2 separate regions of the Homo sapiens genome follow, and region 1 is linked to region 2. The links come from fine-mapping of genetic effects on gene expression. Tissue or cell type: fibroblasts. Region 2 holds a variant in brackets; the other region holds the start of a gene. All regions are shown on one strand. Distances are between the middles of the regions.

Region 1 (8,108 bases), 87 kb before region 2:
GACTCAAAATTAGCACGCTGTCACTTCTACCACATTGTATTGGCCTGTCACAAGGCCAGCACAAATTCAAAGGGTGATAATATAGATTTCATCTCTTAATAAAAGCACCTTCAAAGTCACACTTCAAGGGGTATACATACCGAGAGGGGGAGATTTGGGGCTTTTTTTGCAATCATTCAACTACACACTGGATCCTTTCCATCATGGAAGGAGCAGTGATTTGTCCTCACAGGAATAGATTCATATTCCAAATTCAGATTTGACTTCCCTGCCTGCAATATTTCTGCCAGCTCCATCATCTATGGATGCCTCATTCATTATCATAGTACTCCACACATTGCTTCTGATTAAGGAGCTTATTTTATGCTGAGAAAATTGTAGTGAAGAAACTTCTTGGTCTTGCCAGGAACCCCATCATTCAGATGTAGGTGCTATAATAAAGCAGAATAATAACCTTTTGGAGATTCAGTTATAGCGCTAGTCAAGAGCCAACACATTGTGAGTTTGGGCCGCTGTTTGTGGCATATGCCTTATACCAACAGCTAAAATATAGTACTGCTTCTCCCACAGTTAGAACATGGGTCTGGTTATCAAAGGGTGGAGATAGGAGCAGTTCCTCTCTCTTTTACACCTAATAATTCATTTATGAATTCTTGGGCTCAGTAGGTTTGGAAGACTTACTCCCCAAGGGAGGAACAGTTGCCCTAGAGAACATAGTCATTGTTCATTACATTGGACATGTAATGAGACTGTCCCCAGACCACTGGGGCTCTTGTTCTGAACCAGCAGGTAGAGAAGAAGTTACTAAGTTGGGCTGCTGTTATGCAAGAGAGAGAGAAGACTGAAGCCTCACGGATTCATTCACAGGTGAACCTTAATGTATTTTCATAAGTAATAATAAAAGTCAAAGGAAAATGGCATCAATACAATAAAGACGGTTTTTCAATTCAACATTAAAGAATGTGTGTTCTTGTTTCTATACCAATCTGGCTCATTGAGAAGTTGGCTATACCAACTTCTCAAATTTATTTATTTATAATTTAAAAAAAATTTATATAGCCAGGCGTGGTGGCTCATGCCTGTAATCCCAGCACTTTGGGAGGCCGAGGTGGGCAGATCACTTGAGGTCAGGAGTTTGAGACCAGCCTCGGCAACATGGTGAGACCCTGTCTCTACTAAAAATGCAAAAAGATTAGCTGGGTGTGGTGGCGCATGCCTGTAATCTCAGCTACTCATGAGGCTGAGGCAGGAGAATCGCTTGAACCTCAGAGATCGAGGCTACAGGGAGCCACGATTGTGCCACTGCACTGCAGCCTGGGTGACAGAGATAAACTCCATATAAATTTTTTTTTTTTAAAATATAGAGACAGGGTCTCTTTCTGTTGCACTGACTGGTCTGGAACTCCTGAGCTCAAGGGATCCTCCCACCTACCACCTCCCAAAGTACTGGGATTACAGGCATGAGGCACCATGCCTGGCCTCAACTTTATTTTTATTGCTTCTTCTGTTCCCTGCATGCACTTAACTTTCAACATGAACTGAAGTTCCTTTGGTTTTCGGAATGCACCAAACTCCTTCCTAAAGCCATTTATTTATTTATTTATTTATTTATTTATTATTTTGAGACAGGGTCTCATTCTGTCACCCAGGCTGGAGTGCAGTGGTGCGATCTCAGCTACTGCAATCTCTGCCAAGCGGGCTCAAGCAATCTTCCTACCTCAGCCTCCCGAGTAGCTGGCACTACAGGCATATGCCACCACGCCCAGCTAATTTTTTGTATTTTTGGTAGAGATAGGTTTTCACCATGTTGCCCAGGCTGGTCTCCAACTCCTGAGCTCAAGCTATCCTCTCACCTTGGTCTTCCAAAGTGCTGGGATTACAGGTGTGAGCCACCGCACCTGGCCGCCATGTATTTAATAACGATGATAATACTCTGTATCATTGATGCTATGATGCACATTTAATGTCTCCGAAATCAGGAGATGTTGGCCAATCGCTCATATGTATACTGAGTCGTAGCAGTTCATGGTGTCATCGCTTCGACTGAGCTCTGTGCAATTTTGGAATTACATGTGTTATTTTAAATTACTATTAAATATATCTCCAAATAGATTACCCTATAATTTGGCATTAAAAAGTTCTTATGTGCACAGGAAGACATGGAAACAGCAGTGCGAGGTAAGATACAAATCTATGTCTAAATAAGTTAAAAAGAGCTGTTTCTGTAAGTATACATAACAAATCTAAGCAATTAGAAACCATTGTATTTAATTTCAGCATTTCTTTTCTTAACATAATAAATAAAATATTGATTTTACAATTGCTGGCAGCTTAGATTTGATAGAATATGATAATGGTAATAATAGCAGCTAAGCTTTATTAAAGGTACTGTTTGCTAAATGTTTTTCATTTCCCTTGACATATTTGTATATCTTATCTCGGCGGTCTGGGATGCCTTTGTTTCTGGAAAAACTCATTCTTTTAAAGCTGCATTAGAAATAGTTTCCTTTTTTTTTCTTTTTTTTTTCTTGAGACAGAGTCTCGCTCTGTTGCTCAGGCTGGAGTACAGAGGCCCGATCTCGGCGCACTGCAGCCGCTGCCACCTGGGTTCAAACGATTCTCCTGCTTCAGCCTCCCGTGTAGCTAGGATTACAGTCACCCACCCCGACGCCCGGCTAGTTTTTGTATTTTTAGGAGAGACGGGGTTTCACCATGTTGGCCAGGCTGGTCTCGAACTCCCGACCTCAGGTGATCCGCCTGCCTCGGCCTCCCAAAGTGTTGGGATTATAGGGGTGAGCCACCGCGCCCAGCCTTTTTTTTTTTTTTTTTTTTTTTTGGAGACAGGGTCTCACTCCGTTGCCCAGGCTGGAGTGCAGTGGCTGGATCTCGGCTCACTGCAACCTCCACATCCCAGGCCCAAGCGATTTTCCCGCCTCAGCCTCCAGAGTAGCTGGGACTTCAGGCGTGGGCCACCATCATGCCCAGCTAAATTTTGTATTTTTAAAGTAGATTTCGCCATGTTGCCCAGGCTGGTCTCAAAACTTCTGAACTAGGTGATCTGCCCGCCTCGGCCTCTCAAAGTGCTGGGATTATAGGCGTGAGCCACCACTCCCAGTTTCCTCTAATTTTAGGAAAGCCTTCCCTGAGGCACTCTGAAGAAATTAGGTCTGTTTGAACCACATTCATTCCCGTTACCCAGCACATTTCAGTTGCACTGTCACCATCAGTTTGGGTGTCTGTCTTCTCAGATTGTAGGACCTTGAGGATAAATACTATCTTTTGTTTATTTTTGGGTCCTCTGTATCCACCTCAGCCTCCTGCTTTTTTTTTTTTAAACTATCCCACATTAATTCTTTTTTTTTTTTTTTGATAACGGAGTCTCGCTCAGTCGCCCAGGCTGGAGTGCAGTGGCGCGATCTCGGCTCACTGCAACCTCCGCTTCCCATGTTCAAGTGATTCTTCTGCCTCAACCTCCCAAGAAACTGGGATTACAGGCGTGTGCCACCATGCCCCGACTAATTTTTGTATTTTTAGTAGAGACGGGGTTTCCCCATGTTGGCCAGGCTGGTCTCGAACTCCTGACCTCAAGTGATCCATCCGCCTCGGCCTGCCAAAGTATTGGGATTACAGGCATGAGCCACCGCGCCTGGCCCACATTCTTTTGAAAGACCAAAATAATGAACAGCTAGTTTCATGTAGGTTGTAAAACTTGACCTTGGATTTACTGACACTAACATGTGCACTACACCTTACAGTCCGTAAAATGTTCCTGCATTATTTCACTCCATTGTCACATCTTTGTCAGGTTAGTTATTATAAATGCATTTGTAGTTGAGCCATTTGCTCAAGAACCAGAGCTGTAGTCTGTAGCTTTGTTGCTTTATCCTTGGTCTCAGAAGTCTTCTACTGTACTATAGCTATCAGAGCAGGGATTGATGCCTTAAAGGATGGCAGCTTTTGCAAAACTGGAATAAGGAAGTATGGAAAGGCACCCCAAAACAAGAGAGGTGGCGCACAGCTTGAACAAAGGCAGTGCTCAGGAAACCTACAAACAGCATCGTGTACAGCAAAGGATGATGGGAAAGTCAGCCGAGCCTCTGAGTTTTTTCACGAGTCGTAAACCCCTTACAGAGCTCCGGGTTTTGCCTCTAGCTCTGGAGCACCCCGCCTCTGCCCTTTAACCTGTACTTCCTCCCTCCCTCCCTTCGCGCCGCGCCGCGCTAGTCTCTTAGCCACTCCGAGGCCACCAACCAGCCTCCCAAAGCTCCCATTGGGTTGCCCACCCTTTCAGTCTCAGCTCCTCCCGCCAGAGGCCCCGCCTCCCACAAGCGAAGCTCTTATTTCCGTTCTTCCGGCGTAGGCCGCCAAATCAGTCCGTACAGTGGCGAGGCAGTCGAGCAACAGGAAGCGGTCGCTCTTTCCCCAAATCCCACTGCCTTGTGGGATCTCGGCAAGTCATCCACCCACCCCCCGCGCCTACGCAAGTTTTCCGGATCCGTCCACCCCCGCCTCCCTCCTAGTGTACGGAAGCTGAGAGGGCCCGCGGGTAGGCATGGCGGCGCACCTTAAGAAGCGGGTTTATGAGGAATTCACGAAAGTGGTTCAGGTAAGCTCTGGCGGGAAAGATCCAGAACCGATCCGGACCAGGGTAGATTATCCAAATCCCAGGCACTTTGCCGGAACAGAAGAGGCTCCATACGCCCGTGTTAAGTGCTGACTTGTTGATAATCTCTGATATTGCAAGTTAGTGGGCGTGTTAGTTTGCAGCCGCTGTTGTCATTAATATGTGAAGTCTGACAGGATTTTAAAAAAATTATTAGGAGAAACAGTGTTTTTTAATTTACGAAACTGTCTTATCCGTTATTTCATTTTATTCTCTCACACAACTTTGCTCCATCGCGTTACATTAGCATCCTCGTTTTCCAGATGTGGACATTGAGCCTTCCGGAGGGGTACGAGGATACAGCCAGTTAGCAGCAGAGCCCCTTCTAGCCTCCCCGCACCCCCGTTCCAAAAAAAAACCTCCCAGGGACCAGTTGGAATATACACAAGGTTCTAAGGGGCTGAAAGAAGGGTCTATAGAATTCCTTCAGGCGCAGTCTAAGCAGGCGGGGGTCACAGACTTCATAGGGGAAGAGCTCTCTATTGGTAGAACAGCTCACCTAGGAAGGAGGGCAGTACCTTCCTCACCATGAAGTTGTGACAGGTGGGCAGAGTCCCTGTCGGGAGTCAGTGATGCTCCATGTGTCTCCACGTAGATGTTGCTAGGGTTGATCCTAAATCATCCTGATGTCCTATTTCTCAGATATTAATGTGTATACAAATTACCTGGGGACGTTGTTCAAATGTCGATTCTATTTGATAAGTCAAGCAGAGGAGGTGAGGCAAGATTCTGCATTCCTGACATGCCCCCAAATTTACACCAGTGCATTGGTTGCATTCTTAGATCCTTAGACTTGTAGAGTGGCAAGGCTTAGAGCATCCAGCAGGATACTGATCCTTAAACATTACATGGATTCATTCATCCAGCATTAAAATATGTTAATACAAATACAAAATATGTCAATACATAATATAAAATTTACAATTTTAACAATTTTAAGTATAAAGTTCAGTGGCATTAAGAACATTAGCACTGTTGCACAATGTGATTTCCTCTCTTCCCAACATTCTGTTGTTCCCATTTCCCAAGACTGCTCAGCCCTCTTCCACCCATCCTCACATGACCAGATATGCCATGTGTTCTTGTGTTTGCATATCTCAAAACTCTTGCACTGGTTGTCTCTTCTCACAGAATACATGCCATTCTTCCCTTTCTTTTTGTTCTCCACCCAGTGGACTTAACATTTGTGCTTCAAGACCCAAATGAAACCTCAGCGAGAGCTTAGTCTCTTCTTCACCTGTTTCTGTAGCATTCTGTGGTACTAATCTATTTGTACTTTTTGTTCAGTGCTGCTGTCATTACCGGTGTACCTATCTTCCCACCAGTCGGAGGTCCTTGATGGCAGAGCTAATGCCTGGCTCATCTCCGTGTCCTGGAGATGGACAATAGGGCCTGGCTCACTAAAGTGTTATTGGTGGTTGAATGACAGTTGATATTGCTTGTCCTCTCCCTTATATAATACTTAGGGAAAAAATTCCTAGCTTTTGACCTAACTACAGCTTCGATAAGACTGAAAACTGAGTTTGAGAGGACTAGGATAGAAATGGCTAAGAATTTTAAGGGAAGAGCTAATTTCTTCACTTAATTTTTCATCAGTTGTTAACATAAAGTGATTAAATGAGATCTTAGTGCTTCTGTTCTTTTTTCTCCGCTGAAAAGATGAGGAGGGAGAACTGATATGTGCCTAGCACTTACATATACGTATAATAAAGTTATGTTTAATAACAGATTTATCGACTAGCTCTGTGATAATAAAGTATTGGTATGCCCTCCTATAGAAGAAGGCCTTCCCCAGCTAGTAAGTTGTAATTGAATACAAATTCCTCTGACTCCAAAGTCCTTATTCTTTTTATCATGTCATACTGTGTTCTTGTCTAGAATAATTCTACTCTCTTTTCTATAGAAATGTGAATTTGTAAGGAGGTGATTGCTCAGTACATAAAAACGCACCATTAGGTGGTAAGGAAATTTATTTTATTTTATTATTATTTTTTAACAGAGACAGGATTTCACCATGTTGCCCAGGCTGGTCTCGAACTCCTGGGCTCAAGGGATCCTCCTGCCTCAGCCTCCCAAAGTGCTAGGATTTCAGGTGTAAGCCACTACGCCCATCGGATATTTGTTTCCTTTTCTTCTGTTTTGAGATGGAGTTTCGCTCTTTTCGCCCAAACTGGTGTGCAGTTGCGCAATCCTAGCTCACTGCAACTTCTGCCTCCTGGGTTCACGCAATCCTCAGCCTCCTGCATAGCTGGGACTGCAGGCATACACCACCACCCCCAGCTAATTTTTGTGTTTTTAGTAGAGATGGGGTTTTGCCATGTTGGCCAGGCTGGTCTTGAACTCCTGGCCTCAAGTGATCCGCCTGCCTAAGCCTCTCAAAGTGCTGGGATTACAGGCATGAGCCACCATGCCATGTCTGATATTTGTTTTCTAATAAAGAATGGACTTTGGGAGACTGAAGCAGAGGGATCACTTGAGGCCAGAAGTTCGAAACCAGCCTGGGTAACATGGCAAAACCTGTCTCTACTAGAAATACAAAAATTAGCCATGTGTGGTGGCACACACCTGTAATTCCAGCTAGTTGGGAGTCAGGGAGGTGAATCGCTTGAACGTAGTAGGTGGAGGTGGCACACACCTATAATCCCAGCATGTTGGGTGTCAGTCAGAGAATCATTTGAACCTAGGAGGTGGAGATTGCAGCAAGCCAAGATTGCACCATTGCACTCCTGCCTGGGCGACAGTGTCTTGCTCTGTCTCAAAAAAATGGAGTAGATCCTTTGTGTGACCTCTAAACCCAAAGGCTACCACAATCCTCAGAGATAGGTAGAGCAAAATGTTAGTGTAAGGCTGGGCACCGTGGCTCATGCTTGTAATCCCAGCACTTTGGGAGGCTGAGGTGCCAGGATTGCTTGAGCCCAGGAGTTAAGACCAGCCTGGGCAACATAGAGAGACTCCATCTCTAAGAAAAAAAAAAAGTATACCTATTTTACAGAGACATAAACTGAGACTCGGAGAAATTAAATGACTTGCCTAAAGTCATAGGAACTGGTAAAGGCAAAATTGAGACTCATGGCCTTGTCACCAACCCGGTACTCTTTCTGGTTTATAATACTGTATTTTCCTAAGTCCATCAGCTAAATATATTATTTGGTATAATGGAAAATCATTTCCACCAAATGAGGCAAAGTTAAATTTGCAGATTCTGTGTTTTCGATTTTCTCTACCCCTTGCAGCCACAGGAGGAAATTGCTACTAAGAAACTCCGACTAACAAAACCAAGTAAATCTGCAGCACTCCACATAGATCTGTGTAAAGCTACCTCCCCAGCAGATGCTTTGCAATACTTGCTCCAGTTTGCCAGGAAGCCTGTCGAGGCGGAAAGCGTAGAGGGAGTAGTCAGGATTCTCTTGGAACATTATTACAAGGTAAGAAAATCTTGAGGATC
Region 2 (8,108 bases):
TAAATTAGTTTTGGTCTCATCTGTGTTTGATGTAATTAATAAATAAATGAAAAGAGTTTAATAGCAAATAAATAAATGAGATGCAATATGATATGGTTAAAAAAATACTTTTGGAGTCAGAGCTGACTCTGTCTAGTTCATGTCCTGTTTTGTTGTTTATTCTGTGACCTTAGGCAAGCCACTTAAATTTTGATCTTTAGTTTCCTGTTCAGTGAAATAGGATTAATTGCAATTCATATTGTGAGGATTAAGTGAGCTCAAGTAAGGAAACAGCCAGCACAGTACAGTGCACATAGAATGTGCTCAGTTTACCTTTCTCATTAGAGCCCATAGTCTCCTGATGGATGTCTAGACTGAGGCTTCCTGAGAATTGTGAGCATAAAGAGATAAAGAGAGGTAACACTGGGACACAGGATTTTTCCCAGAGCTAACAAGTTTCCATTTTTGTTTGTACAGAAGTTCAGATTTCTTATGGCTAATTGTGTTGGATTGGGTTACATCTTGTTTTGTGCACTTCAGAACAACTGCTACAATTCCGGGGCAGGGGAATAAAGTAACATTTGGAATCAGTTAGTTAATGTACAGTCAGTTGGTCTGTATTCTGTATAATTGTCATAGAAGGCAGAATCTTCCTGGAGAGGAAACACAAATGCTTCTGAAGTAGAATACTTCAGGGCTGTCTCTTGCAAGAGAAAAATCAGAGAAGCGAAAGGAAGAGACCATCTGGCCACCAAACTCACACTTCACAGTTGGGCTTAGCTAGTCTATGGTCTTGGCTTTCATTGTGCTGGGTTCCCACACTTTGGGTAGGCCCTCCAGGACCAGTTCAAGCAACCCAAACGAATAAGAAGTGATATATATCATACATTAATTCTTCAATCACTTTGAGAGTAATTTACTCTTTGCCCCTTTGTAGGCATCTCCTTCTTGATGTCAAAGTCCCCAGGAGGCATCGTTAACTATCGTAACGTTACCTGCCGAGCATGAGATGGGAGGAAGTGTCATAGTCCAGTGGACGGTTTTTTCCAGGCTACTGTGAAACCTGATGTGTTATGCCGGCCCTGAAACAGACAGCTTCCCAAGTGACTCAGACCTTAAGGTTTCCCACAGTTTCCATTTCTATTCAGAATTTAATGTTGCTATTAAAAAGTAATGAGGCAGCTTTCTATGAATGCTGAGATGGTTAGGTAATACACAAACACACACACACTCACATTCCTCCCCTAAAAAAGAAGAAAGCAAAGAAAACCAGTACTTTTTGTAAATGCATGGCATATCTCAAAATTCAAAAGAAACTGGTAATAGTAGTTGCCTCTGGGAAGGTATACAGGGTGGCAGGGCTACAGGGCACAGGCGTAGGAAGGGGGACTAATTTAATTTAATTTAATTGTATATCCTTTGAAAGCTATACCTTAAGTATGTATTAACTATTCAAAAAAACTAAATTTTTTTTTTAAAGAAACATTTTCTCTTTTTATTATACTTTAAGTTTTAGGGTACATGTGCACAATGTGCAGGTTAGTTACATATGTATACATGTGCCATGTTGGTGTGCTGCACCCATTAACTCACCATTTAGCATTAGGTATATCTCCTAATGCTATCCCTCCCCCCTCCCCCACCCCACAACAGGCCCCGGGGTGTGATGTTCCCCTTCCTGTGTCCATGTGTTCTCATTGTTCAATTCCCACCTATGAGTGAGAACAGGCAGTGTTTGGTTTTTTGTCCTTGTGATAGTTTGCTGAGAACGATGGTTTCCAGCTTCATCCATGTCCCTACAAAGGACATGAACTCATCATTTTTTATGGCTGCATAGTATTCCATGGTGTATATATGCCACATTTTCTTAATCCAGTCTATCATTGTTGGACATTTGGCTTGGTTCCAAGTCTTTGCTATTGTGAATAGTGCCACAATAAACATATGCGTGCATGTGTCTTTATAGCAGCATGATTTATAATCCTTTGGGTATATACCCAGTAATGGGATGGCTGGGTCAAATGATATTTCTAGTTCTAGATCCCTGAGGAATTGCCACACTGACTTCCACAATGGTTGAACTAGTTTACAGTCCCACCAACAGTGTAAAAGTGTTCCTATTTCTCCACATCCTCTCCAGCACGTGTTGATTCCTGACTTTTTAATGATAGCCATTCTAACTGGTGTGAGATGGTATCTCACTGTGGTTTTGATTTGCATTTCTCTGATGGCCAGTGATGATGAGCATTTTTTCATGTGTCTTTTGGCTGCATAAATATGAAAACTAAATGTTTTAAATCACCAATAATTCTAGCACAACTATTTTATTTGTGTATGACACTTTCTAATTTCTTACTATAGGCAGATATGTTTTCATATGGTTACAGTCATTGTGTCTATACTTATATCCAGTTAGGATGCTTTTCACAAGCTAGCTTATAATGGCTATTTATTTCCTGCTATGATCTGAAAGTTTATGTCTCCCCCAAATTCATATACTGCAATCCTAACCCCAAGGTGATGTTATGAGGAAGTGAGGTCTTTGGGAGGTGATTAGGTCATGAATGAGATTAATAACCTTTAAAAGAGGCCTAAGGGAGCTCGTTTGTGACTTCCACCATATGAAGATACATGTAGAAGGTGCAACCTATGAGGAAATGAGCCCTCACTAGAAACCAAATCTGTAGGTGTCTTGATTTTGGACTTCCCAGCCTATACAACTGTGAGAAATAAATTTCGGTTGTTTATAACCCACCCAGTCTATGATATTTTGTTATAGCAGTTGCATGACTAAGATATTTTTCCAGATGTCCAGAAATTGGAGATATGGTATGATTAAGTGGCTTATTTATATCATTGAGGACCTAGTTTCTCTATTTCTCTTTGGACTTTTCTTGTCTTCAGCATTGGCTTTATCTTAAGGGTTTTTCCCTTAGAGTTACAGTATGCTGCTAATGGCAATCAGGGCTATAAACATCCTTGCCCAGTCCGGCGAGAGACAGACAGACACACCAATTTGTTGTAAGCATGGAATAAAGTACTTTCAACTGAACTGATAAGGTCAACTCAGGTCACATATCCAGACAGACAATGTGCACTAATTGGCTTAGTTCAATCAGATACTACTTGGAATTGGGCTTGGGGACATGTTCCCTTGAACAAAATCAGAGTTCAATTAGTAATAAAGAAGTGGAGAATGGCTAACTGGACAGGCAACCAACAGTGTCTACCATAATACCTTTTAAAAAATAATGTTTTTTTCTGATACAAAAAAATACTTGTTCATTGTCTTAAAAACTCGGAAAATAAAGCATAGTTGGGAGAAGGTACTAAAGAGCACCCTATTACCATTATCCAGAAAACCACCTCAATGTATTTTTCTCCTCTATATAGTTTTTACATAGTTGAGATCATACACCTTATTAACCATTCCATATTTTAATGGCTACAAAATATTTACTTGGGCCGGGGGCGGTGGCTCACGCCTGTAATCCCAGCACTATGAGAGGCCGAGGCAGGCAGATCACGAGGTCAGGAGCTTGAGACCAGCCTGGCCAACATGGTGAAACCCTGTCTCTACTAAAAATACAAAAATTAGCTGGGTGTGCTGGTGTGCGTCTGCAATCCCAGCTAGTCAGGAGGCTAAGGCAGGAGAATCGCTTGAACCCAGGAGACAGAGGTTGCAGTGAGTCGAGATCACGCCACTGTACTCCAGTCTGGGCAACAGAGCGAGACTCCACCTCAAAAAAAAAAAAAAAAGATGGATGCAGCAAACCATCATGACGCGTGTATACCTATGTAACAAACCTGCACGTTCTGCACATGTACCCCAGAACTTAAAGTATAATAAAAAAAAATTTACTTGATTGGATGCATCATAATTTACTCAATATTTTTTTCACCATTGAATAAGTAGCTACTGAGTTTTTACTATAATAGTCCACATAACAATGAATATTATGACCCATAAAGCATTTCATTTCTGTTGAATATTTCTCTTAGTATACTTTTCAGTGTAAAGCTATGAATCAAACATTTTACCATATATGTGCCTTTATAACAGTACGGTTTTGCTTTCCAAAAGGGTTACATCAGCTTAAACTACTATCACAGTGTGAGTGAACCAATTTTATTATAACCACTCCAGCATTCAGTGTCGTCATTTAAAAATGTATGACTGTTTACTAGGTATAAAATGATAAAATGCTTTTGACATGATCTTTATGTTGGTGGCATTATCCTTATCCTGTGTTTGCCTTGGGGGTTTTATTTACTATAGGGATCTGCAAAGACTTGGAGAACTTCAATCTGAATTGGCAGGAGTAGCTGATTTCTCTGCCACCTATCTTCGCTGTCAACTACTTCTCATCAAGGTTGGTTTGCATCCATTCCATTTATGATTGTGTTGCTAAAAATGCATCTTTGTGGATCCAGCAGTGTGTGAGGCCATAAGTTATAAAACTTATGGTCTTAATGCAACCACTTGACAATGGAGAAATATGTACTCTGCAGTGTGATTACATTTGTCTCTAATTAACGAAATATTAACTCATAGGAATTTGTAAATTTGGGGAGAATTCTTTTATCATAATATAATTAGAGCAGATTGGATAATCATTTTAGTTAGAATCCCAAGGTTGTAAATGTTTTGTATAATTTGATTAGCAAAGGAATTGTATGAAGTTTTAGACTAT[C/T]TTCTTAAAATGCTCATTTGAAGGCCAGGTGCGGTGGCTCACACCTGTAATCTTAGCACTTTGGCAGGCCAAGGCAGGAGGATCGCTTGAGCTCAAGAGTTTGAGACCAGCCTGGGCAACATAGCGACACCTCATCTCTACAAGAAAATTTAAAGTAGGCAGGTGTGGTGGTGCATTCCTGTATATCCAGCTACTCGGCTGGAGTTGGGAGGACTGCTTGAGCCTAGGAGGTCAAGGCTGCAGTGAGATTGCACTCCAGCCTGGATGACAGACCAAGATCCTGTCTTTAAAGAAAACAAACAAACAAACAAACAAAAAAACTCACTGCACTTCATCAAAGTTAAAAGGTTGATTTCATTGCTTTTAAAAAGACCAGCTTGCTGGCGTTTCTTACTCAGTAGTCAGCTATACACAGAATTGGTACCCAAGAATCTATTTAGTTTTGCTGAGTTAAAAAACAATTAAATGAGTTCAGTATCTTTCAGCTTCTGTAGCAGAATTTTACTATAAATTTTGGCACAGAATTTAGGAGAGCCCTTCTCACTTGACGAACTTTTATCTTGGCCCTAGTTCAAAGTGTTCTTTGTTTTCAAAGTGATTAATGATGTTTGGCTAAAGTCAGAGTAAATCAGGGAGTCAAAAGTTATTTTCTACTGTGTGAACTTGTGCTAAATGTTATATTTACAGTTGTGCAGGTGTGCCTATACATGTAAAGGTGCGTATGTATACTTGGCACTTAAATGGTCCTTGTTAGGCTAGATATGTTCTTTCTAATGTATATATCTGTGTAATCACCACCATAGGCAAGTCGTAGAACATTTTCATCACTCCAAGAAGTTCCTTCCTGCCCCTTTGCAAGGTTGTTTGGCTTTTCCAAGCCTCTGTGAAACCCCAGGAATTCAAGGAGGCCATGGAGAAGAATCCACTTTTCTATAGTAGCAAAATATGGGTGAGGAAAGAGAAGTGATTACTCCTAAAAAGAACACATAATTGTTGGTTATTCAATGACAAGGGGTGACAGTGTAGGTGAGGGGCCCAGAGCCAGAACCCAAGGCAAGTGTGTTTAATAACAGGAAAAAAGCTAAATAAATTTTGGTACAGCTACCTAGCAGTATATTCTGTAGTCAGTAATTCTTTATGAAGAATTATACAACAACATGACAAAATATTTAGGGTGTAATGTTATGTACCCAAAAGAAGGGGAGCCAATCATAATCCCAAAAGATAGTCCAGAACATCATAGTCCTAAACTGTTTAAATTCCAAAAGACTAAAATCCCTAAGGTCTAAAATCCCAAAAACCACAGCCCAGAAAATATCAAAATCCCCAAAATATAATTATGGAAGAAATAATTTAAAAAATTTAAAGATATTTATTTTTTAAAGGGGAATTTATTTGAGAAACATAAAAACACAACAGAATACTTTATACATCACTTAATATAATAAAACAGACAATAACAACATACATTTTTGCAAGCATAAACACTCAGGTTACTAATGACAGTTGGGTGGGTCTAACAGTTATGAGCAGATGAGCCATATTTATAAAGAAATTGGTCATAAAGGGAAAGGTATAAATGCATATCACTTTGGTTGTTAATTGTGTATACCCAGCTTTTTAACTGTGGTCATCTGAAATACTGTGCCCAACAACCTCAAGTCTTTTGACGAGATTGATGGAAACTGTGCTGGGTCACCACTGCATATGCAGTCACCCAAAGAGCTGAGATCTCAAGAAATTTTATCTTTCACAAATGCAGATGTACGAAAAGGATATCTCATTTATCGAGGAAGTTTCAACATTTTGTGTACACACTCAATGCTTATACACAAAGTCAGTATTGTGATGATGCACTTTCATGGAGTCAGATTTCTGATATCCAAGCAGCAGAACCCAGAGAGTCCGTTTTGCTATATTGCCTTTTTTTTTTTTTTGAGACAGAGTCTCAGCTTATCATCCAGGCTGAATACAGTGGCGTGATCTCGGCTCACTGCTGCAACCTCTGCCTCTTGGGTTCAAGCAATTCTCCTGTCTCAGTCTCCCAAGTAGCTGGGATTACAGGTGTGCACCACCACGCCTGGCTAATTTTTGTATTTTTAGTAGAGACAGGGTTTTGCCATGTTGGTCAGGCTGGTCTCCATCTCCTGACCTCAGGTCATCCACCCACCTCGGCCTTCCAAAGTGCTAGGATTACAGGCATGAGCCACCACTCCCAGCCCATTTCGTCTTAAGTATTTGTTCTCTCCTGGCCACTGGCTGATTGGATGGTGCCCGCCAACATTGAGGGCAGATAGTCTCCACTTAGTACACTCAGATTTATACACTAATCTCTTCTGGAAACACTCTCATAGACACACCCTCAATGTGTAAAACAAAATAATCTTTTACCAGGTTTCTGATATTCCTTAATCTAGTCAAGCTGATATCTAAAATTAGGTCCACAAGTCCACCCCTTGTCAGCTTGGCACTCATACGCATCTCCTTAAGCCATATTTAATTTCCAAATAAAGACAATAACATGGTAATAGTTGTGCCTAACATGATACAACTAACATGATGCAACTATCCTGCATACAACCCAAAACACGCTAATCACTTCCCCAGAATTTGGATGTGAGGATTTCAACATTTGGGATTGTATGTTTTGGGATTATGATCTAATCCCCAAACTTAATTCTGCTTTCTGACTACAACTGTCAAAAAACATGCATACAAGAAATGATTAGAAGTAAATATTCCAGAAATTCCTATAGTTTTTATCTACAGTTTAGACCTACCACTGTTTAATTTGATAGCCACCAGATACATGGGACTCTTGAGCACTCAAAAAGTTGTTAGTCCAAACTGAGATGTGTTATTAAGTGCAAAATACACACTGGATTTCTCAGACTTAGTATGAAGAGAAAATGTAAACTAATTAATAATTTAAAAAATACTGCATGGTGAAATGTTAATATCTTGGATATACTGGGTTAAATAAACTTTTTTAAAAAATTAACTTAGTCTTTGTATCTTAAAATTAACTTACATCTTTGTAATTTAAAAACCGTGGCTACGAGAATATTTAAAATTATATATAGCTCATGTTATATTTCTATTGGACAGTGTTAGTCTAGGTTTTCTGTAATGTCATTTGATTACATCTGTAATTCAGAAGGACTGAGAAAATAAGAGGCTGTCACAGAAGTTTGTGCAAGGGATGAGGTCATGTGGATGGATAGGTGAGGAGAGAGATGGAAGGTAAAATCATGGCTCTTAGTGGTGGTTTTGAATGTAGAAAGATTGAAAGAGGGAGAAATCTAGGAAAGCTGCTTGATTTCTAGTTGAATATGTTGATAAAGTGGTTGGGGCTTACAACATAATGAGCATAGGGGAAAAGAAAAAAGAACCACAGTTAAGGAAGAAGTATCTAGGTGGCTTGGGTTAGTCCAG

The links. PIP is the estimated chance that this variant, and not a neighbour inherited with it, causes the effect.
Region 1: INTS4 starts here. The variant in region 2 is fine-mapped to the expression of INTS4 in fibroblasts (GTEx, PIP 0.92).

Annotation. Positions count from the first base shown.
Region 1 is chr11:77,991,088-77,999,195 of GRCh38, reverse strand. It overlaps INTS4 (integrator complex subunit 4), which reads left to right and starts at 4,528. Exons shown (of 23, transcript NM_033547.4): 1 at 4,528-4,606; 2 at 7,897-8,088. The coding sequence starts at 4,553. RefSeq lists silencers at 1,186-1,386, 4,144-4,213 and an enhancer at 4,414-4,613.
Region 2 is chr11:77,903,961-77,912,068 of GRCh38, reverse strand. It overlaps INTS4 (integrator complex subunit 4), which reads left to right. Exons shown (of 23, transcript NM_033547.4): 16 at 4,259-4,352. It also overlaps a transcript of AAMDC not described here. Among named protein-coding and RNA genes, the nearest start is that of INTS4, 87 kb to the left of the region's middle. The variant C/T (reference allele first, on the strand shown) is at 4,674.